Homo sapiens: one gene and its partners. The protein of the gene in region 1 purifies or fractionates together with the protein of each later gene. This does not show direct contact. Each region holds a gene or a part of one and is shown on either strand. Other genes may lie near its edges.

The links.
Region 2: the proteins of HSD17B4 (region 1) and HACD3 fractionate together in Homo sapiens (co-fractionation; one large-scale study listed by BioGRID). This does not show direct contact.
Region 3: the proteins of HSD17B4 (region 1) and GRHPR fractionate together in Homo sapiens (co-fractionation; one large-scale study listed by BioGRID). This does not show direct contact.
Region 4: the proteins of HSD17B4 (region 1) and AFG1L fractionate together in Homo sapiens (co-fractionation; one large-scale study listed by BioGRID). This does not show direct contact.
Region 5: the proteins of HSD17B4 (region 1) and LARS1 fractionate together in Homo sapiens (co-fractionation; one large-scale study listed by BioGRID). This does not show direct contact.
Region 6: the proteins of HSD17B4 (region 1) and TYSND1 purify together in Homo sapiens (co-immunoprecipitation; one study listed by IntAct). This does not show direct contact.
Region 7: the proteins of HSD17B4 (region 1) and PLEK purify together in Homo sapiens (co-immunoprecipitation; one study listed by IntAct). This does not show direct contact.

What each region holds. Positions count from the first base shown.
Region 1 is NC_000005.10:119,528,997-119,532,496, forward strand, and holds part of HSD17B4 (peroxisomal multifunctional enzyme type 2), read left to right. Parts: intron 1-897; coding exon 898-984; intron 985-2,269; coding exon 2,270-2,408; intron 2,409-3,500. UniProt on the Homo sapiens protein: Bifunctional enzyme acting on the peroxisomal fatty acid beta-oxidation pathway.
Region 2 is NC_000015.10:65,554,463-65,557,962, forward strand, and holds part of HACD3 (very-long-chain (3R)-3-hydroxyacyl-CoA dehydratase 3), read left to right. Parts: intron 1-424; coding exon 425-498; intron 499-2,276; coding exon 2,277-2,441; intron 2,442-3,500. UniProt on the Homo sapiens protein: Catalyzes the third of the four reactions of the long-chain fatty acids elongation cycle. This endoplasmic reticulum-bound enzymatic process, allows the addition of two carbons to the chain of long- and very long-chain fatty acids/VLCFAs per cycle.
Region 3 is NC_000009.12:37,421,523-37,425,550, forward strand, and holds the start of GRHPR (glyoxylate reductase/hydroxypyruvate reductase), read left to right. Parts: upstream 1-1,228; coding exon 1,229-1,311; intron 1,312-3,322; coding exon 3,323-3,453; intron 3,454-4,028. UniProt on the Homo sapiens protein: Enzyme with hydroxy-pyruvate reductase, glyoxylate reductase and D-glycerate dehydrogenase enzymatic activities. Reduces hydroxypyruvate to D-glycerate, glyoxylate to glycolate, oxidizes D-glycerate to hydroxypyruvate.
Region 4 is NC_000006.12:108,522,054-108,524,277, forward strand, and holds part of AFG1L (AFG1-like ATPase), read left to right. Parts: intron 1-243; coding exon 244-372; 3' UTR 373-2,224. UniProt on the Homo sapiens protein: Putative mitochondrial ATPase. Plays a role in mitochondrial morphology and mitochondrial protein metabolism.
Region 5 is NC_000005.10:146,155,151-146,158,650, reverse strand, and holds part of LARS1 (leucine--tRNA ligase, cytoplasmic), read left to right. Parts: intron 1-855; coding exon 856-923; intron 924-1,022; coding exon 1,023-1,248; intron 1,249-3,500. UniProt on the Homo sapiens protein: Aminoacyl-tRNA synthetase that catalyzes the specific attachment of leucine to its cognate tRNA (tRNA(Leu)).
Region 6 is NC_000010.11:70,137,481-70,140,590, reverse strand, and holds the end of TYSND1 (peroxisomal leader peptide-processing protease), read left to right. Parts: intron 1-449; coding exon 450-667; 3' UTR 668-2,610; downstream 2,611-3,110. UniProt on the Homo sapiens protein: Peroxisomal protease that mediates both the removal of the leader peptide from proteins containing a PTS2 target sequence and processes several PTS1-containing proteins.
Region 7 is NC_000002.12:68,371,782-68,375,281, forward strand, and holds part of PLEK (pleckstrin), read left to right. Parts: intron 1-3,500. UniProt on the Homo sapiens protein: Major protein kinase C substrate of platelets.

The DNA of each region.
Region 1 (3,500 bases):
CAATAAAGTAATTTACTGAAGTGCATTTTGTTCATTAATTATCTCTTTCCATGCTTTTCAATGTATGTAATTTGAAGTAAAGTGAACAAATTACTTGAAAGATCTTTTTTCCTCCAAAATATGATGAGATGTAGTCAAGAGAATGATCTTCTTGATTGTTAAAAATCAAAGTTTTAATAAACGCTATGTTAAACTTTAGAAACTTATCCTATACATTTGTAGCAATAACAATTTTTATGAAAGAATAGCCATTGGAATAATTTGAAATGAAGGACTGGGAATTAGAATTTGAATTCCTTTAATGACTATTTTGATAAAAGCCTATTTAGACATTTAGTTCATGCTGTGTACACTTCCTCTTGAAATAAGACCTGGAATTACTACTTAAAAAACACTATTATGATTTGTTCCTAGCCAATTTTATTCTATATTAGCAGAACAAATGTACTTTGAGTACCATTACCTCATGTGGCTATTGTGCTATGCCTTTTACTATTTATAAGGATTCAGCATGGACTGAATTCTGTTTATAAGAGTGCATCCCCTGATCCCCACTTCCCCCCCAAAAAATGCCCAAAATACCAAGGCCCAGTCTCTATCAGTGTATTTACATTAGAATTTTGGGGGATGGGACCTCATAGGGTTTCTTTGTTTGTTTGTTTTAAAGGGCTCCAGCTGATTATAAAGCCAGGTTTAGTAACAGTTGTATTAAATCAGAAAGCCTTTATGTTTGTTCATCTTGACATTTACTTTAGCAGCCTTTTATTTTATCTGGATTATTATATTCTTTTTCATATGAGGCAAAAATAATAAATTTTAAACTTTGTACTGTTTCACAGTGAAATTACACTTCCATTGTAATCAGAATAAATCTTTTTTTTTTCTTCTCCTCCTAAGGTCCAAGAAACTGGAGACATTGTCATTTCAAATGCATATGTGGATCTTGCACCAACATCTGGTACTTCAGCTAAGACACCCTCTGAGGTAGGTTATAAAAATTAGTATCCAAGCCACTTCCTCATTTAGGAATTTCAGTTAAGGTGACTTTAAGAGTGGTTAGGCTACGTTAGAAAATTAACAACCATGAAACTATTCTTAATTCTTGAAGTGAAAAACATTAATTCAAAACAGCTTGGAATAGAAGGAATACTCTGGCAATTTATGAACTTTAAAAAACTCGTTTTGCAGGATACTAGGATATCTTTCAAGAGAACATAATTTTCTAGTTTTAGAATAAATAAATCAGTTGTTTAATCAGAATCTTAAGCAAACAGCGTTTTGGAGAAAAATAGATTAAAAAGTTGAATATCCTGTACCTTTTTCTTGATTTAAAGGTTTATATAAAGTTTTGTATGCAAATATATAAACCAGCAGCGTGTATAATTTATTAAAACATTGTATTATTTATTAGCATGCTGAGACTTTTGATAAAAATGTTTATATTCTATCTCTGAAATATTAACTTTGTAATGTTGAGGTTTCGATACCCATGATCTTTAATTGTCTGTCATAAACCATATAACTGACTGAAAATTAAAATCCCTTAAGAATAGTCTAAGAAAAAAAAAAACTTAGAGCGGGCTCGGTGCCTCACGCCTGTAATCCCAGCCCTTTGGGAGGCTGAAGTGGTTAGGTCACTTGAGGTCAGGAGTTCAAGACCAGCCTGGCCAACATGGTGAGACTCCATCTCTACTAAAAATACAAAAATTAGCCAGCCTTGGTGGCAGGCTCCTGTAATCCCAGCTACTCAAGAAGCTGAAGCAGGAGAATCACGGGAACCCGGGAGGTGGAGGTTGCAGTGAGCCAAGATTGCACTACTGCATTCTAGCCTGGGCGACAAGTCTGTCTCAAAAAAAAAAAAAAAAAACAAAAAACAAAAAAAACCCAAAACTTAAGTTTTAGAGCTGTAAAGAAATTCAGACTTCATGTAATTTAGTATTATTTTATAAATAAAAAAAATGAGACCATAGAAGTTGATTAATTTGATCAGGATCTTTCTAAAGTTAGCTAAAACATAGGTTGTCCAGTTCCTATTTTTCTTTTAAAATATTATTTCTGAATTCTAATAAAAGTAAAATCCTGTTATTAAGAGGACTGAGGTTCTGAGTGATGTATACAAATAAGAAAGTATGAAAGACACATTGTATGAAGAAAACTGACTTATGTACAGAGTTTTAAAAAATCTTTTTTTTGCACATGTTTTATAATCACTTTTCTCCATGAGTTATTTTTACAGAACTTTTAAAGTTTATTTTGTTGTCGTTGTTAGGGCGGGAAGCTTCAGAGTACCTTTGTATTTGAGGAAATAGGACGCCGCCTAAAGGATATTGGGCCTGAGGTGGTGAAGAAAGTAAATGCTGTATTTGAGTGGCATATAACCAAAGGCGGAAATATTGGGGCTAAGTGGAGTAAGTTATAGCCCTGATTTTATAATATTCTAAGGTAATTCTTAGTAAATAAAGTATCTTTTTAACAATTAAAGACCTTTGAAGGTAGGTAAATCTTACCTTTTTAGGTAAGTTTTTTTTCTTTTCCCGTGGGAATGAATAGGTTTGGGAATGTCCAAAGGGGGGTGTGTGTGTGTGTGTGTGTGTGTGTGTTTGTGTGTGTGTGTAAGAGATGTAGGGAATCAATTGAAATGAAAATAACCTGTTTTAAGATTTCATTGTAATCCTTGAAAGTAGTTTAAACAGTCATCTTGGCTATATGCATCTTTATCTAATCTTCAGCTTCTTAAACATAAGGCAAATTCATCAAGTCAAAATGAAGTATTTTTAAGTCATGATATTTGACAGTTACAAAATTATTTTATTCATACCAAAACAATAATTTGGATTATCTTAATTATCAATATAAAATCACTATTTTCTAGATATATACAGATTATGGTCAAAGGTGTTTGTTTATCTAATCTAGGGAAATTATCTATTAGAGTGCCATGCACCCAATATAAAACATCTTGCCGCAGAAAGAAAGCAGTCATATTTCTTTTCACTGATGTGGAGGTCCAAAGAGACCCTGGTACCATTTTGTGAAGAAAGAGAAATTAGAGGATAAAAAGAATAAAGAAAAAATATTCTGTCAGATCTTTTGCATCTGCTGTGTAACTCACATCCTTAATCATGGCACACACTTTAATTATGGAATATTCTAACCTCACCTTTATTTTCCTAGAGATTCTTCAATTAGGTTGAAAAGATGAAAATGGATAGGAGGTAGAGCAGTAAGTCCCTGAATTCCCTTTCAGCAGAGTCTGTTGCTTGTCACAGTTATCTTACTGTATTATGGTCATTTATAATTGTATGTTTTCTCTCATTTGACTTTGGGCTTAATCCTGAGAAATGGCTGCAGTTTGTCTATTTCTAGCTTCTAGTATAGTCAATAACACATAATAACTAGCCTGATTCTGTATATGTTGGAATGAGTGCTAAAAGCCATGTAGAAAGCATAGTTTTAGAAAATAGTATGGCTGCCTTTTAAAAAAAAGGTTCTGAAATTGA
Region 2 (3,500 bases), on another chromosome or scaffold:
GCCTTTTGGCTACAATCAAGTATGATATTCGTGCCAGGTACAGTGGCTCATGTCTGTAATCCCAGCACTTTGGGAGGCTGAGGCGGGTGGATCACAAGGTCAGGAGATCGAGACCATCCTGGTTAACACGGTGAAACCCCGTCTCTACTAAAAATAAAAAAAATTATCTGGGCATGGTGGCGGGAGCCTGTAGTCCCAGCTACTCGGGAGGCTGAGGCAGGAGAATGGCATGAACCCGGGAGGCGGAGCTTGCAGTGAGCCGAGATCATGCCACTGCACTCCAGCCTGGGCAACAGAGCAAGACTCTGTCTCAAAAAAAAAAAAGTGTAATATTCGCATACTTGGGAAAGAACTGCACCAAGCTGGCTTTTGGATGGCCTTGCTCTGCTCAAGTTTGCAGTAACCCACATTTCTTTCTTTATAGCTCAAGGACATGGTGCCAAAGGAGACAATGTCTATGAATTTCACCTGGAGTTCTTAGACCTTGTGAAACCAGAGGTATGTTCTTTCCTTTCTCACTTCCCTTCCCATTTTAGGAAATGAATACCAGTAGTTTAGTGAAATGGGGAGCAGGGTTTGTGGAGAGAAGAAGATAAAAACCAAAGGGGAATAATAGAGTTCTTTTATTTGGAACAGAGCCCAGGTTTTAGCTGCAGAGGAATGGGAAAGTCAGAGACCCCAAGTTGAGTCAGGGCCCTGCCATTTATTAGCAGTGTGATCTTGAACAAGTCTCTTAACTTCTTCGAGTTCTGGTGTTCTCATGTGTTAAATGAAGGTCTGGACTAAGTGATCCTTCCAGCTCTGATATTCTCTGGTTTTAGTGATGGCAGAGGAATATGGCACCCATTGAGAACAGAGTTACATAGAGTGGTTGAAGCCCCCACCAGGGGTTACTTTCATGTGACTTTGCCACAGTTGCAGGTGAGAAAAATAGAAATCAGAAAGGGTGAAGGCAGCTGGCCTTCAGAAAGAATGCTGCAGATATCATCAAAACTTCCCTTCCCTTAGAGCCTGAGGAAGCTTCTCTCATAAGCAGGGAGAGAATCCAATAGATGGGGTATTTTGGCTTCTGGAATTACACTTAGCTCTGGTGGCTTGAGCTTCTTGATTTCCGTGCGCAGGTGCTCAGTTGTTTTGAGAAAGCATGAATAATAACCAGTGGTACAGTGGGCAGAGAACCTGTCATGGAGCTTCCTTTGGAGAAAAGGGACAGGACATGTAGACAAACAATGAGCTGGAATGGCCTATAAGAATTTGAGTTTAGTTGGGAAGACTCCCCAAATTGACCCCTGTGAAAAAATCTGTAACTGATCCAATACAGTTCTGATCTTGATGCAGGTGTTTCTAAAACCGGGGTCTGCTGAGCCAGGACAGTCATTTTCATGGGAGGAAAATTTATAAGCTGAGGGTAATTGGATGCAGTACCCTTGAGAGGGTGATTGGACATAGTACCTTGCATGATGTGGCTGTGGCAGGAGGTTCATGCTAGTTCCCTCCAGCCTAACCAGGAACTATTTGCCTTTCTTATCCTGATATCCTCCTGTATCATTCACTGGGGGAATCAGAGAAGGACATTATGTCCTTACCAGTTCTCCATGCCAGCCGTTGGTCTAGATCAACCTTTTTGGCACCAGGGACCAATTTTGTGGAAGGCACTTTTTCCACAGATGGTGGAATGGGGATGGTTTCAGGGTGATTCAAATGCATTACATTTGTTGTGCACTTTATTTCTGTTATTATTACATTGTAATATATAATGAATACAACTCACCATAATGTAGAATCAGTGAGAGCCCTGAGCTTGTTTTCTTGCAACTAGACAGTCCCATCTGGGGGTGATGGGAGACAGTGACAGATCATCAGGCATTATAGTCTCATAAAGAGTGAGCAACCTAGATTCCTTGCATGCACAATTCACAATAGAGTTCACGCTCCTATGTGAATCTTGTGCCAATGCTGATCTGACAGGAGGCAGGGCTTAGGCAGTAATGCAAGTGATGGAGAGCGAGTCTAAATATAGGTGAAGTTTCACTCACTTGCCCACCACTCAGCTCCTCCTGTGTGGCCCGATTCCCAACAGGCCATGGACCAGTATCAGTCCATGGCCCAGGAGTTGGAGACCCCTGGTCTAGATGTTCCCTTTGCATCAGGACTTGCAGGACCAGAGAAAGAAGGAGAATAAATATATCCTGCAGCTTCTATGTACGGCGCCCCTGGCATGGTGCTGCTTCAGGGAACAGAAGAGGGCATTCTCACATTTTCACTTTCTCTCCTAGCCTGTTTACAAACTGACCCAGAGGCAGGTAAACATTACAGTACAGAAGAAAGTGAGTCAGTGGTGGGAGAGACTCACAAAGCAGGAAAAGCGACCACTGTTTTTGGCTCCTGACTTTGATCGTTGGCTGGATGAATCTGATGCGGAAATGGAGCTCAGAGCTAAGGTTAGTAAGGATCCTAGGATCTAGCCATTGAGGACAAATCATGGGGAACCCACGTTATTCAGGCCACTTCAGATACCTCTCGGTCTGAAAGAATAGCTACAAAGTTACAAATTCATTTAAAGACCTGGTGATGTGATTTTCAAGAAGTATTGGCTATGTATTTTATAGACTTTCCTTCGGTTGAAATCTGTCTGATGTTTCTCTTACAACTAGACTAAGGTGATAGATGTTGAGGAGAAGACCACTGAAGTAAAGTGCAATTCTTATCACATCATATCAAGAGTACATACGGCCGGGCACGGTGGCTCACGCCTGTAATCCCAGCACTTTGGGAGGCCAAGGTGCGTGGATCACGAGGTCAGGAGATAGAGACCATCCTGGCTAGCACAGTGAAACCCTGTCTCTACTAAAAATACAAAAAATTAGCCGGGCGTGGTGGTGCATGCCTGTAGTCGGAGCTGCTCAGGAGGCTGAGGCAGGAGAATGGCGTGAACTCGGGAGGCGGGGCTTGCCGTGAGCCGAGATCACGCCACTGCACTCCAGCCTGGGCAACAGAGCGAGAGTCTCAAAAAAAAAAAAAAAAAGTACATACTGTCAACGTGACACATCACTGTTGATATTAACCATGGGTTAGCTGGCTTGAGGTGACGCTTATCAGGTTTCTCTACCATAAGGTTATTTTCCTCTTGGCTCTCCTTGGAAGGAAGTCACTATGTGTAGCCTACATTTAAGGAGCAGGGAGTTATGCTTCCTGTCCTTTAGATGGAGGGAGTATCTACATAATTTATTTGGAATTCTTCTGCATAGGAGAATAATTATGCATGTCTATTGTCTCCCATTTATTTATTCAATCATTTATATCATGTGAGTACATGGGTATTTATTTTATACTTTGAGTTATAATCTAATATTATTTATTTTGTTGCTCAAATTCTTCCAGCTTTGGCACTAACTGGCCTTTGGTTATGTCCTCATCCTGCCCATCTTTCATTTGGCTTTTGTATCTTTTTGAGAAAGCGCCATCATTATGGGACTGTTTTTTTTTTTTTTTTTGAGCAC
Region 3 (4,028 bases), on another chromosome or scaffold:
ACCTAATGTTTGTATATTCAGTACAGACAGAGTTTCACCATGTTGGCCAGGCTGGTCTCAAACTTCTGACCTCAAGTGATCCGCCTGCCTCGGCCTCCGAAAGTGCTGGGATTACAGGCATGAGCCACCGCGCCCAGCCATACATTTAAAGGCCATTTTCTTTTCTATAAACTGTCCATTGATATCCTTTGCTTATTCAGATAAGCTGGGCATCTTTGTCTTAGGAACTATTTGTGCAATAAGTAAATCAACCCCTTGTCTATAAAATGAGTTGCAAATATATGGTATTTTTCCCGGTTTGTTGTCTTATGATTTTGTTAATTTTTTTTTTTTAAGATAAACATAAGCCTGGTATTTCCAGGCACCTGGTATTTCCAGGCAGTCTCCCATACAAGCCCTAACCAGGCTTAGTTTCCAAGATCAGATGCATTCAGGATGGTACGGTTAATTTTTCAATGGAGAATTAGTTGTACTCTTATGGCTTCTGGCTTTCGCACACATAGCGTATCACTTATTTATTGCTGCATAAAGAATTACTCCAAAATTGAACGGCTTAGAGCAACAGCAGTCAGTGCATTATCATCTCTTATGGTTCCGGGGTTGACTGGGCTCAGCCAGTGATTCTCCTAAAGGCTCTTTCTTGCAGTTTTAGCTGTAGTCAGGTGGGAGTTGGCCTGGAGTCACCCGAAGGCTTCCTCACTCATACCTCTGGTCATTGACGGTGGCTGTGAGCCGGGCCCCTGGCTGTGCTGTTGGCCTGAACACCTACACGTGACCTCTCTGTGTGTCCTGGACTTCCTCACAGCCTGGAACCTGGGTTTCTACCCTGGGCCAACCCAAGAGACAGAAAAAGTGGGGGCTTTCAGTCTCTTAAGGCCTGAGCCTGTGGAAACAGGACCCTGAGCGTGTAGAAAAAGCAGGGCTCCCATGAGGCCTTGGACGGGATACTGCCCCCTCTCCCCCGGGGCCCTGATTCCCCAGTGGCACGAGGCGCACCCCCCCACACACACACAAGGACACTGTGTAGGGTCACTGTTACTGTCACTCCCCGAGCACGCACAGTCACCGCTCAGCCGCAACCCGGCGCTCCCTCTCGCGAAGCCACACCCCCTGCGCACGCCGCGCGCGACGTCTCTCCCGCCCACTCCAGCCTGGCCCCGCCCCGGCCCAGCTACATTCCCGGGCCAGCTTCTGTACTGCCAGGTCCGGGTCGGCGGCTGCACTGCGGATGAGACCGGTGCGACTCATGAAGGTGTTCGTCACCCGCAGGATACCCGCCGAGGGTAGGGTCGCGCTCGCCCGGGCGGCAGAGTAAGAGCCTCGCGCGCCGTGGAGGAGGGAGCAGGGCGGTCCCAGGGACCGGAGAGCCGGGCGGGGCGTTTGGGCCTTGTGGCCGGCTGGGGCAGGCTTGGAGTTTTGGGGAGTCTCGGAGAAAGTTCTCTGGGGCCCAGTTCTCCTCTTAAGACGACGCTGGGACCTGCAGTTCCGGCTTTGGAGAGGGGAGATTGCCCCTGAGGCAAGGTCCAGGCTAATTCTCCACGCTCCCACAGGACATGTGGGGTCAGGGACATGGCGGTCACTGACCAGGCCCTTGGACGTTTGGCAGGGGGCTTTGATGACTCTTCTTCTTTATATTTACTTATCTTTTTTTTTTTTTTTTTGAGACAGTCTCACTCTGCTGCACAGGCTGGAGTGCAGTGGCTCGATCGATCGTGGCTTACTGCAGCCTCGACTTCTTGGGCCCAATCAGTTCTCCCACCTGAGCCTCCCGAGTAGCTGGGACTACAGGCGCAAACAATCACTACCGGCTAATTTTCTGATTTTTTTTTTGTAGAGATGGGGGTCTCACTCTGTTGCTCAGGCTGGTCTCAAATTCCTGGGCTCAAGCAATCCTCTTGCCTCAGCCTCCCAAAGTGTTGGGATTACAGGTGTTAGTCACCATGACTGGCCTGAGGACCCTTTAATTTTTAAGACAGGGTCTCACTCTCATCCAGGCTGGAGTGCAGTGGCACCATTATACCTCACTGCAGCCTCAACCTCCTGGACTCAAGAGATACTTCCACCTCAGCCTCCCAAGTAGCTGGGACTACTACAGGCATGCACTACCATGCCTGGCTAATTTTTTATTTTTTTCAAAGACGAGGGTCTCACTGTGTTGCCCAGGCTGGTCCTGAACTCCTGTACGAAGGGATCCTCCCACCTCAGCCTCCCAAAGTGCTGGGATTACAGGCATGAACCACTGCACCTGGCCCACCCTTGCTAAATGGAACCCTTTTTGTGGGCCAACCTTGCCAGGTGCTTCATATACATAAACTTTTAATCCTGGTAGCACTGTGAAGTCAGTATTATAATTCCCATTGCACAGATTAAAAACTGGAGGCTGGACTTAGGGTTAAGTTTCTTCCCAAAGCCATGCAGCTCCCAGGTGGAGGAGCTGGGGCTTGTACTCAGAAGTGTCTGACTGCTGTCTGATCACTGCATTTGATCAGGTTTGTGTTTCCAATGTTAGATAGGAAGAGGATGCAATCCAGCCTCAGCAGCCAGTTCTAGGGGCATATGAGATTTTCAAATTTTGTTCACTGCAACAAAACCTTTGCCAAGGACCCACTTTGTACTGAGCAGGAGAAGGTGGAAGGCAGCAACCGCGCCCATGGTAACAGTAGCTCACGCTGTACCCTGCTCATGGGGAGGTGGATGAAAGGTGGTCAGTGCCCTGGGCTCAGTCAGGAGGTGCAAGTAGCTATCCTGTGTCCTGCCACATAGAGGCTCCACACGTGCTGACTGTACTGAATTCCATGGCAAGGGCCAGGAGGCACCGTGCATCACTGGGACAAATATCTGGTTGCTGTGAGCTGCCGTGGAAGCGTTGGGTGGCCTTGACCTTATCTTTCCTGGCCCAGTCCAACTATGAGAGTTTTCTATTTCATGGACTCCACGGACAGGAAGAGATGCAACAGGCCATTGAATCCAGGCCCCCCACCTGAGGCACACCCTGCCCCCCACGGGCCTTCCCTGCAGTTGGCCGCCTGCTTGGCCGCCCAGCCCCTGTGAATGTGGGAAAGCTCTTCTCTGTGCTGACCTGAGAGCTGTCCCCATGCCTTCCCCCTTGCAGCTTAGGCTCTGCTGGGGGGCCCCTCAGCCCTTCACCTGTCACCTGCTGTCTCGGGACAGTTCTGAGACCACCCCTGCCTGACCCTGCCTCCCCTCAGCCAGCCCCGGGCAGCCTGAGGCCAGGGCCATCAGAGGCCAGGATTCCCAGCTGGGAGGGGCGGGGACAGGTGTGCGGCTCCTGCTTCTCCTGAGGGCCTCCCTTTCCCCGCAGCTGTGAGGTGGAGCAGTGGGACTCGGATGAGCCCATCCCTGCCAAGGAGCTAGAGCGAGGTGTGGCGGGGGCCCACGGCCTGCTCTGCCTCCTCTCCGACCACGTGGACAAGAGGATCCTGGATGCTGCAGGTGCACACTGGGTGGGCAGGGGACTTGAGGGTGGCTTGGCCCTGTGGGCCCCTCAGCCTGTGCTGCTGGCTCCTGGCTGCTCTGCAGTGCTGTCTGGGTTCTGAGGGCGTTTCCTGCGATACCAGGCCCGAGCGGGCAGATAGCTTGCTCTGGCACAGGCACTGCCCCTCCCTCCTGCTGTGAACCCCTTGGCGGGGGACCCTAGGAGGGCAAAGACCGCGGTGTGGAGACTGTGGGTGTGGGGAAGTGCATCCAAGGCCCTGGGTTCTCCAGCCCTGCCACAACCTTGCTCTGTGACCTCCAGCAAGACCCTGCCCCTTCTGGGCGTGTGCGTAGTATGAGGGAGGACCTAGCTCAGTGCCAAGCCCCAGCAGGATGTCTTTCCTCAACCGCAGCCACGGGTCTCAGCCCATGGAAGAATAAACCTCCCCCTGTGAGGCTGTTGTGACAGTTTTGAGAAAAGGTTCAGACTCAGAGGCTGCCAGATGGGAAGGGACCCTTGTGAGTCAGTGCTGAGCCGCCCCACATCCTGGCCTTGGCCTGGAAGCTTTGTGGTGTCCTGCTTGCAGGAGAGG
Region 4 (2,224 bases), on another chromosome or scaffold:
CACTTTTGGAGAAAGTTTTCCCTTTTAAGTTTTCTCTCTGATAATTTGATGTGTTTACTGCCTATCAGTTTAAATTGGTTGACTCTCTAGTCTCATTTAAGAGATTGTATATGGAAAAAAAAAGTTATAAAAAAAGGCATAATCTAAACCGGTAAGCCTAAAAAGTTTTTTTAAACCTATACTTAGGTTCTGTAAATTTTCATTTGTGATAGCTTTATTTTAATTTCTTTGTTTTATAACCAGGATTCAGCAGAAGGACTCTCCATGTTTACCGGAGAAGAGGAAATCTTTGCATTTCAGCGCACAATTTCCCGACTCACGGAAATGCAGACTGAACAGTACTGGAATGAAGGAGACAGAACCAAGAAGTAACTGCCACTTTTGCATAAATAAAACTCTAGACAAATGGTTAACGCAGGCAGAACTCCTTATTGTGGGACTTGAAGGAATCATTTTCTCATCATTAATTATGCACTTTGTCCTCTGGACCATTTTAATCTAAAATTGCTCTCAAGGATCTAGTGGATTAGTAAGTTAAACACTTAACATTTTTTAGGTCTGCTTTTTCTTATTTGGCCTTATTTCTGCACCATGAAATTAAAATCATCTCATTCCTGAAGATGAATGTAGGACCAGACATTTTAGCTTCACATTAAACCACCTGAATGAACCTTGAATGCACAAGTAAATGCAAGACGTCTGGATACCTTCAAGCTTTGGCTGCATGGTGGTGGCATGTTAGAAATACATCTTTTATAATGGGGGAAGAATGCCCTATGTTTCAATTCAAAACAAAGACAGTTTTCCAATCTGATATAAACTAAAAGGGATAATATTTTAGAATATGGGCTTATATGTGGTTTTTTTTTTTGGTTATGAATTACAGTAAATCTCCCAGGCCTTCAGATTTCTACATAATGGAAGAATATGTTTTTAACCCTGAGATCAAGTTTAGTAGGCAGGACTTGATCTCAAGTGGTCACAAAGTTTTCTAAAAAAAAATAGAAAATTATGATGGGATCAAATAAGGAGCAAGTGTCAAATTCCAGCCAACAGGCAGATCTGCAGGCAGAGCTACAAACTCTGCAGCCAGGAATGGGGACCAGTGAGAGAGTGTGGGCGGGGGGGTGGGTGTCAGAGTCGTAGGCACTCCAACAGCAGAGGAGACTCCCGCTCACATGAGGCCAGCCGTACCCCAGTGGACAGCAGGCTCCTTCTCACTGTTGTAGACACTTGCTCTCCTTGCAGCATGCTGCCCCCGCCCTTGCCGCCAACTCTGCCGTGAGATGGACCTAATAGGAAATAGGAAAGAAAGCCTGACAAGCCTGCTTCACAGGAAATCTGATTTGTCCTTCACTGAGCTCATCTTTTGCTTCTTTGAGTAAAACCTGGCTTTACTAACTATTGTCACAAAGTGGATCTTCGGCTGTGGATGAGTGTGAAAAACAGAAAAAATATAAAATCCACAAAATCTTGTGAAAATTAAGCATTTGGGGGAAGGTAAGGCATAGGTGAGTCAGTCCAATGAATACAATGGTCAACATAAGTAAGCTCTTTGAACCTATTTATTTTCTATTTATTATTATTTTTATTTTTTATATCTTGGCCACTCTAGCCATCTCCTGGCAGGGGTAGTGTGGCACAGCATGGCCCTATTTAATTTCTTAGTCAATAATCCATCACATAGTCTCTTTTAGATATTAACCTAATTAAGGCAAGCAGGTAGATGGATGAGTACCCAAGCCGAGAGAAGAGTTTAAATCAAGCCTTCTGTAAATAAAATGTGGTTTAAAGATATTTTTATTGAAGTGAAACACAGTAATTTCAAAGAGGTTACGTAATAGGGAGAAAGGATGGGAAATAACCACTTTGTGCTGGATTGAATGCTATATATTTACATTAGCTCAGTTAAAAAAAATAGTCTTAGAAAGTGAATATTATAACCCCTGTTTAAAAATAAGAAAACTGAGTCTTGGGAAAGTTAAGTAGCTTGACCTGAGATTCACAGTTTACAACTACAAAACTCATATACTATATTTTATAACACACTGTCTCTTACTCTTACTATTTAAAAAAAAGAGATTGTTTTAAAAATTGATTCATTTAACTCAGTGAATGAAGTTGAAGATAAATTCACAACAGAACCATTGATTTGAACTCAGTGAATATAAAATGTTTAACTTTATTCTTTAGATCTTAGCTTTTTACTTTTCACATTCCTTTG
Region 5 (3,500 bases), about 27 Mb from region 1:
TCATGTGCCTTCTTGCTTATTTCCAAAGTAATTCTAGCCATGCCTAGAAGTTCATTCTAATTCCTGTAGAACACATTATTAACATTATTCTCTGAAATACTTGAATAAATCAAGAGTAAGTGATTTGGCTAAATCCATGGCAAAGTAAAAATCAATGACAATGCCAGCATCTGAACTTATGATTCCCTATGATTGCATCATTTTTTATTACCATCTTTGAACATATTTTCAAAATCAGCCTTCAATTTTGATGTAACTTATCTAAGTGAGAGTTGATCAAAATTTTAAAAGATTTGAGAGACTTAAGACCCAGTAAAGTTTTAATATAGCCAATGGCAGCAATATCCTAGATTTCAGTAATCCTTTGTAGATTTTTCAAAGCATTTTTCATCTGTTATCTTGTGTGTTCCTCAGGACAGTCCTATCTGAGACGCAACATCCTTATTTTACCAATAAGGAAAGAAAGGCTTAGAGAGATTATGACTACCTTGGGTCTAACCATTAGTAAGGGAGCAAACTAAGTTTAGAAAGCACATTATCTCTGACCTCTGGTCTAGTGTCTTCCTTTGATGACTACTATGTGGGACATGCCCTGGGATGGAATTAGGGTTGATTGTGTCTTCTCACCTTCATTTTGGCAAACACTATTTTGGGCGATTACTCCAAATCTCTCCTAACGTACTAGACTTCTGTGTGGGTATAGTTAGCACACCACTGGCAATCTCTTCTCTGCAAAAAAAAATTAATAATGCAAGAACCCATTTTAGGGACTTGAATCAGATCTCTCACATAGATTAGTAGGTTTAAGGCAAGTCTTTTTTTTCCTTCAAATTTTTGTATCGTTTATTTGCTTAGGGTGTTGGACCTCAGGAATATACTTTACTCAAATTGAAGGTGCTTGAGCCATACCCATCTAAATTAAGGTAGGTTTGCCAGAGTAATTGCTTTATCATTTCTGAACCATCAGATAGTTGTTACAGAGTTGACATGTTTTTACATCAATATTTGTTTTTTTTTCTCAGTGGCCTGAAAGGTAAAAATATTTTCTTGGTGGCTGCTACTCTCAGACCTGAGACCATGTTTGGGCAGACAAATTGTTGGGTTCGTCCTGATATGAAGTACATTGGATTTGAGACGGTGAATGGTGATATATTCATCTGTACCCAAAAAGCAGCCAGGAATATGTCATACCAGGGCTTTACCAAAGACAATGGCGTGGTGCCTGTTGTTAAGGAATTAATGGGGGAGGTAAGTTGGATAGCAGATTTTTTATTTTAATGCGTAAATTTCAAGGAAAATTTCAACAATGAATATTGAGAAAAGAGCATTACAACCTTAAAAAATGAGGTGTACATGCAGTAAACTGTGTAAGTCTTGTGTGTTTTGGTGCATTTTCATATGTATATACACTTACGTAAACACCACCTAAATCAAGATATAGAACAGTTTTAGCACTCCAGAAGGCTCTCTCATGTCCATATCATTAGTACTCACCTCTCTCCTCCAAAGGTAACCACTGCTCTGACTTCACCAAAGATTAGTTGTTGTTCTTGAACTTTACATAATGGAATTGTGTAGTCTGACTGTTTTGTGTCTAGCTTCTTTTGCTTAACATTATGTTTGTGAGATTCATACATGTTGTAGGAATAGTTCTTTTTTTATTGTTGTGTAATATTCATTGTATGACTGTATCATTAAGATAGCATATTTTATTTTTAGGTTTCAACTCGGTAAATATCTGGTTGAAAAATATAGGCAGTCCTCCCCAAGAGATTTAATAGCTGCATTAGTCATTATATTATTTTAAAAATACTATTACCTGAATTCCTGGTAATACTAAATTTGGAATTGTAGCTGCCTTTTTTTTTTTTCATGTGAAGAAAGTCTTGGTTGATATTAATTAAATATGGATGGTTACACAGCTCATCTACTTTATTTTATTTTTATTTTTTTTTTTGTAGACAGTTTTGCCCTTGTTGCCCAGGCTGGTGTTCAGTGGCGCGATCTCAGCTCACTGCACCTCTGCCTCCTGAGTTCAAACGATTCTCCTGCCTCAGCCTCCTGAGTAGCTGGGATTACAGGTGCGGGCCACCACGCCCAGCTAATTTTTTGTATTTTTAGTAGAGACAGGGTTTCATCATGTTGGCCAGGCTGGTCTTGAACTCCTGACCTCGGGTGATCCACCCACCTCGGCCTCCCAAAGTGCAGGGATTACAGGCGTAAGCCACTGTACCCAGCCTTATCTACTGTATTATCAATATTTCTGAGTGTGTTTAATTCCATTTAGTGAATGCTGATCTTTGGTATCTTAAATAATTTTTTAAAAAGAAAAATATGAGTAGAGTACCATCTCAATTCTTTTAAATTGAACTATTTTATTCCTTATTTAATACTTTGATTGCAGTATATTTACAAGTCCCAAAATTCAAAAAACGCAAAAAGATACAAAAGTTCCCCATTCTAGAGGTAGTTAGTAATATCTGTGTCTTGTGTATCCTGGTAATATTTCATGTATACACAAGCGAATACACACATACTCTTTGTCCCTCTGTTTTTACACAAATGGCAATATACTTTATATGCATTGTACCACATCTTGCTTTTTAATTTGTATCTTGGCAATCATTTTGTCAGTACATAAACAGCTTCTTTATTCTTATTTTTTATAGCTACATAGTATTTCATTGTTTGGTTGTACCACAATTTACTTAACCATTCTCTATTAATGGATATTTGAATTGTTTCCTGCCTTTTTCTTTTAAAAGCAGCACTGCCACATCTCTTTAGTTCCTAATGTTGGAATTTTGTCTGAGAAGTTCTTGGGAACAGTATTAGGGACATACATGTTTTCCTATTCTTAATGCAACTTTTCTCCCTGTTAATTTGAGCAAATTCTGGCGTGAGGGACATGGATGTTATAAATTGCAAAATAGTTTCAACATTTAAAATGGTTATAATATTTAGCTGTCATCCATATGACTGCAAATTCTATAAAGGCAGGTTATAAGTACATATATGAATAAAGAGGGGTGGGTGGGAATTATGTGGAAAGGAAAAGTGTGTTCCTTAGCTAGAGCAAGAAGCTGCAAATTCTTTGTTGCCATCTGAGAATTTGGGTCTAAAATTGCTTAATCTTTTGGATTTTTTCAAGTGAAATTAGAACTATCCTTTTACTTTGTCTTCATAACTACTATTTTAAATAGATGTATAGTACCCATTCTTGTTCTTGTAACATATTTTGTTAAATCATTTTTTCTATCATTGAAAGCTTTAGTTGTTTCCAGGCTTTCCTAGTATAATTAACTCAGCATTGGGTAGACTTGTTTAAGAAAAAATAATTAGTTGTTGTTGAGTCTGAGTTACATGAACATTTTGTGGCTTTTGCTGTGGATTCCTATATTTTCTTCAAGGAGTACAATGTCACAAACAATGTATTAGTGTACTCATGTCATAATATTGACAGATTTAGTTATTATAATTATTAAAAATTATTTTTCCGG
Region 6 (3,110 bases), on another chromosome or scaffold:
ACCGAGCAGGCCAAACAAAATATGTCTGTGGGTCTGATTCATTCATTCATTCATTCATTCATTCATTCATTCATTCATTCATTCAACAAGCCTTTGTTGCGCGCCTACTTGGCACAAGGCACTGTTTCAGGTACTGGGGAGACTGCATGAACAAAACCTCAAAGTCCTGCCCTTATGGAGCTGACACTAGGTCGAGAGAAAGATAACAAGTGAAATAAGTGAACTATCTAGTGTGTTAGATTTTGAGAGTGTTAAGGAGAAAACGTAAAGCCAGGAAAGGGTGTGGGCAGCAGGTGTTCATGTCTAGAAGCTCAGCGTCTGTCACCACGTGGGGTGGTATCCAGCCCTACCAGGCCCTGGGGGCTCCAGGGTGGAGATGGTCCTCCTCCCTTCTCCAGCCTTTCTGCCCCCTGGCTCACATCCTCTTTTGCTCTCTGACTCCTCAACAGGCATAATCACCAGCAACACCCGGGACAATAATACGGGGGCCACCTACCCCCACCTGAACTTCAGCATTCCCATCACGGTGCTCCAGCCGGCCCTGCAGCAGTACAGCCAGACCCAAGACCTAGGTGGCCTCCGTGAGCTGGACCGCGCTGCTGAGCCAGTCAGGGTGGTGTGGCGGTTGCAGCGGCCCCTGGCAGAGGCCCCGCGGAGCAAGCTCTGAGGCTGTGTTACCACCTTTGGAAAGAAGAGTGACCTTTTTCTGCTGTAGGAAGTGATGTTGAGGTGACGGTGGCCTCAGGATTCAGGGCCCAGCCCCTGCAGGGGCCCAGGCTGCCTCTCATCTCCACCCACTGACTGCAGACTGGGCTTTGGGCTCTGGGGCAAACTTCTCTTCAGCCCCATGGATCCTTAACCTGGCAGCCCGTTTTGGGGTGCTTTCTTGAGCCCCCAGTTCTCTGTCCCCTAGCACTAGACTCAGCTGTATTGTTTTTCCTTCTGGGGAGCCCACTCCAACTGCACAGAAGTTCTGGGCCTGACAGGTAGATTCCAGCTGGAAGGCAGGCCCGTGCCTGGTTTTGCGTCTGTTCCCCTGAGGGCCATCGTCATCCTGGAGCTTCAATGGGGCCTTGGCTCCTGTCTGCCTCTCAGTCAGAGTCAGGGCTGACAAAGGACTCAGCTTCCTTAGCATCTCAGCAGAAACCTTGCTCTGAAGACCAGAGACAGAAGGGACAGAAACAGGAGTGCCTCCTGCTGTGCCAGGCCCATGGGCAGTGCAGGCAGATCCCTGAAGGTCAGCACTCCTGGGTCTTCATATGCCAACAGGGGCGCTCTTGACACTGTGCCTTCATTTTCCAGCCCACAGCCTGGGTCTCAGGGATCTTGAGGGGTAGAACATGTCTGGTTGGGGCTTGGGAATAAACATGATCTATTGAAAAACCTCTGTATTTATATATCAAATTGTTTCTTTTTTTCAGGAGTTGAACTGGGAATAGGCAAGTACCAGGCAAAGAAACACACCCTTTCCTTTTTTTTTTTTTTTTTTCTTTAGAGCTGTGGTCTTGCTCTCTCACCCAGGCTGGAGTGCAGTGTTGCGATCACAGCTCACTGCAGCCTCAAACTCCTGGGCTCCAGGAGACCTCCTGCCTCAGCCTCCTGAATAGCTGGGACTACAGTCGCGCACCACCACGCCTGGCTAATTTTTTATTTTTGTAGAAATGGGGTATTGCTTTGTTGCCCGTGCTGGCTTCAGCCTTCTGGTTTCAAGCAGTCCTCCTGCCTCAGCTTCCCAAAGTGCTGGGATTACAGGTGTGAGCCACTGTGCCCAACCCAGAAATACACCCTTTCTGTGCTGTTTTCTCAGCAGGGTGTGAGCTCACGGGATACGGTCCTGCCAGACTGGCCCTCATAGCTGGTCATGTGCCAGTCAGAGCTGGGTGGGGCTTGCAGGTCCCGGAAGGTGGTGGTCTTGACCTGGCAGCAGATGCTTAAAGAATGCCTAAGGTGGGTGGCAGTTGGGGAGTTCAAGGGTGAATGAGGCCAGGGCAGCCCCCAGGAGCTGAGGCCAACTCTTTGAGTCAGGACTGTGCCGTGTGCCCAGGGCCTTGCATGTGTGGGCCCTCGAGTGATTTCTACTGGCAGGCTGAAAGCCCTGTGAGGGGCGGCTGTGGGCGGAGGCCACGCAGGAAGAGTGCTTAGGAGTAACTTGTTTCTAACACCTGTGTGCTGAGTGCCAATGCTGGGTGTGGTGTTATGATATATATTGGTTTTCATCCAGCATTCCTGACTCGTAACTCTCATAGTCCTTGTTCCAGTCTTTGTTAGAATACTGGGTATGTTAGGGCTTGGGACAGGCCTCTGACCTCTGGGTATCCTTTCACTAATGTTCGCCCACCTTTTTCACAGTGGGTCCTAAAGACCTTCCCATGAGAGGGTCTCAATCCTAGGGGAAGGAATGTTGATGTCATGAACCTTCCATAAAAACCCAAGAGGACAGGGTTCAGAGAGCTTCTGGATAGCTGAACACCTGGCACTTCCTGGAGTGTGGCGTGCCCAGGGAGGGCACGGAAGCTCTGCACTCCTTCCCCTTCCCTCATTCCTTGCTCTATGTGCATCTCTTCATCTGTATCCTTTGCGATATCCTTTATAATAAACCGGTAAACATAAGTAAGTGTGTCTCTGAGCTCTGTGATCCACTCTAGCAAATTAATTGAACCCAAAAAGGAGGTCGTGGGAACTCAACTTGAAGCCAGTTGGTCAGAAGTTCTGGAGGCCTAGACTTGTGCCTGGTGTGGTTGAGGGGGGCAGTCTTGGAGACTGAACCCTCAACCTGTGGGGTCTGACAATGTCTCTGGGTAGATAGTGTTGGAACTGAATTAGAGGACACCCGGCTGATGTCCACTGCTTTTGGTGGGGAAACCCCACACACATTTGGTCACTGAAGTCTTCTGTGTTGATGATTGTGATGGCATGAGAGTAGAGGGAAAACACGATTTGAGGAGAGTTTTTCCTAAAACACGGGGCAATCACAGAACACTCCTGGGATGGTTGTTCCTCCCTTTACAGATTAGGAATGGGTCCAGAGGTCATGGCTAGTTTAAGAGAAGTTCTACAGTAAGTTAATGGTAGCAGAATCCTAGATCTGAGGTCTGACTTTGCTGTGAGAG
Region 7 (3,500 bases), on another chromosome or scaffold:
ACCACAACGAGTTTAGTTTTTTTTTGACAGCCCACATCAAATTGCTGACTCATAGAGCTCCTTTTTTCCCACATGCTCATTTCCCACACCTTATAAGTCTTTACAAAATATTATTAAAGAGAAAGGCTGTATCTTATTTAATTTCAATTTGCATTTCTTTGATTGCAGTTGAAGCAATCAATTATGTTTTATTGGACCCAGCTTTTATTCGTTTGAGAATTGCTTATTTATATTATTTGCTCATTTAAAAAATTGGGAGTGTTGATATATTTCTTATTGGTTCTAAAGTGTTTAAAGAATTAAGGATATTAATTTTTAATCATATGATGATACAAATATCTATGCATTTTCATTTGCTTTTCAGTTGTTGCAGTTTTTTAAATATAGAGAAGTTCATTTTTTTTTTTCTTGAGATGAAGTCTTGCTCTGTTGCCCAGGCTGGAGTGCAGTGGTGTGATCTAGGCTCACTGCAATCTCCACCTCTTGGGTTCAAGTGATTCTCCTGCCTCAGCCTCCCAAGTAGCTGGGACCGTAGGTGTGCATCACCACACCCAGCTAATTTTTGTATATTTTTAGTAGAGACTGGCTTTCATCATGTTGGCCAGGCTGGTCTCAAACTCCTGGCCTCAAGTGATCCACCCACCTCAGCCTCTTAAAGTGCTGGGATTACAGGCATGAGCCACTGCGCCCAGCCGAGAAGTTTATTTTTAATATGGTCAAATCTGCCGTTCTTTATGATTTCTTCTTTTGATGTCATGCAATGTCAGACTCTTAGGTGCTAAATTATACCAGTCCCATGATGATGAACAGGTATTTACCAGAAAACTTCAAATCTGACTCAGCATCCCATTGTGGACATGTACAGGTTTTGGCATATAATGGGTGAAAACACATATATGCTACACACACACATGCACACACACACACAGACACACATACACACAGCATATGGATATATATGTGTGTGTGTGTATATATATCTCCATTGAAGTGAAATAGCTAGCTAAGTGGTCTAAAGAAATCGATACAGATTCCAGAATGACTCAGTGTTATACAAGAACCAAAATGAAAATGACATCTGAGGGGAAGGGAAAAAACATAAAATTGAGAATCAGGAGACATGGATTCTACATTAACTGGTCAGATGTACTAGGCCAATCACTTAACATTAATTGTTCAGATGTGGTAGGCCAATCACTTAACTGGGCCTCCACTTTTTTTTATCAATATGGTGACAGTGTTGGTAGATGATCCTAAATTTCTCTGTCATTTGGACATTCCATAATCACACTTCCAGGTTTGCTCTTGGGTGAGCATCAAGTGGGTTGGGGCCAGAAAAGGAAAAATTTAGGAATGGTCAAGGAGAGGTGCTGCCAGGTTACCCGAGTGAGAAACTGGTAGCTGCAGTAGTGGTGAAGAGGAGAGAAAAACCTCCTCAAATTCCATCATCCTGACCTAACTCAGCACTATCAGGCCTGGAAGGATGTTTAAGCTTTGTAAGTGGTCAGATTTCTCTTGTTTCATAAAGTATCAGCCTCTTCATTGTGCATAATGACCCTGAATCCCAAATGACACATCCTCCTCAGAGTCAGACCCCGGAGGCTGCACTTGATTTAGAAAAGCACAACGTGAAGGTTAGTTACATATGTATACATGTGCCATGTTGTTGTGCTGCACCCATTAACTCGTCATTTAACATTAGGTATATCTCCTAATGCTATCCCAACATGGCACGTGTATACATAGGTAACTAACCTTCACGTTGTGCACATGTACCCTAAAACTTAAAGTATAATAAAGAAAATAAAAAAAAAAAAAGAAAAGCACAAACTCATATTGGACAGTTGGCTCCAGAGGCTTTGTCTACTGAAGGCATGCAATGCCAGCTTATCGCTACTGATGCATCCCAATTTCAAAGTCAAAAGCCCTGAGTGATGATGGCAGTTAATAATCTCAGCTATTCCTGAGGTTGAATATTAAATGTTAGGTTTAAAAGGGATTCTGGCAATCATCTAGTGCAACTTTTCATTTCTAGCTCTGAGAACATGTCTTTCTTTTCTTATTTCCAGGTATTTTTAAAATTTTTTATTAAATAGATTTGTCTATGTATTTCACTAAAAGTATATTCTAAATTTTAATACATAGCAGAGTCATATGTTACTCATTCATTTAATAATTTTCCCAAGTTATTTTAAAAGTTAAGCCCACAGAAAAATGAGGAAACTAGTACCATTATTCATATAGCCTTTACCTAGATTAATCAATTGATAATGGATGGGCACATTTGCTTTGTCTCTCCCTATCTCTGAATTTCTGTATAAATAAACACACATATCATATTAGGTTGAGATAGTTGAGAGTAATTTGCAGACATCACGCTACCTCACTCCAAAATACTTCAACATACATCTTCCAAGAAAAAGGACATTTTCCTATATAATCACAATGCCATTATCACATCTAAGAAATTTATTACTAATAAAATGACCTTATCTAATACACCTTTTACATTCAAATGATGCCAGATCACTCAATAATATTCTGCATAGCGGCTTTGAAAAGAATCCATGATTCAATCGAGGACAATTCATTGCATGAATATGCTGTTTTTCCAGTGATTAAGTGAGAGAAGTAACTAATGTGGAATAGTTTCCTTCTATAGAAGCAACTTGAAGGGTGGTGTTACTATAATCACTGTATACCCCTCCATGGAGTTAACTAACAGGACCTGGAGTTAACAACTTTGTTTTTTAATTGAAGGATAACTTACAATAAGGTACATGAAGGGTGTCATAATTTTTTACATACCTATACCTCATGTAATCAACACACAGATAAAGACAGAGACATTTCTAGTATGCTATAAAGTTCCATTGTTCCCTTCCTAGTCTATACTCCCATCGTCGGTAACCATTATTGTAATATTTTCTCATAAGCTATGCCTGTTGTTGAACGTCATATGAATGTAATCATACTCTAAGCACATGTTTTGCCTGTTTGCTTTTCACTCAACATCTATGAGATTTATTTATAATGTTCCAGGTACTAGCGGTTCATTTTTTAAAAATTGCTAGGTTGTTTTCCATAGTATACATTTACTGTGTTAATAATGGATTTATATATTATATTATACAGTTTACTTATTCCTTCTCCTGTTGATGGGCATTTGGGTTAGTCTTTGTTTCTGGCTATGATGAATAAAGGTGTCATGAACATTCTTGATGAAACCTTTATGACAATATGCATTCATTTCTCTCAGATCTTTGCCCAGGAGTGAAATTGCTGGTGCAAAGGACATATATGTGTTTAGCTTTAGCATAAAACCACCAGATATTTTTTCTGCACTGGATGTGATATTCTGCACTCCTGCCAGCTATGTTTGGTACTTCCAGTTATTCTACCTCCTTGTCAAGTCTTATTCTTCTCTGACTTTGAAAATGCTAGGTACTCTAGCAGGTGTGTAGAGGTATCTCATTGTGATTTGAATCTGCATTTTCCTG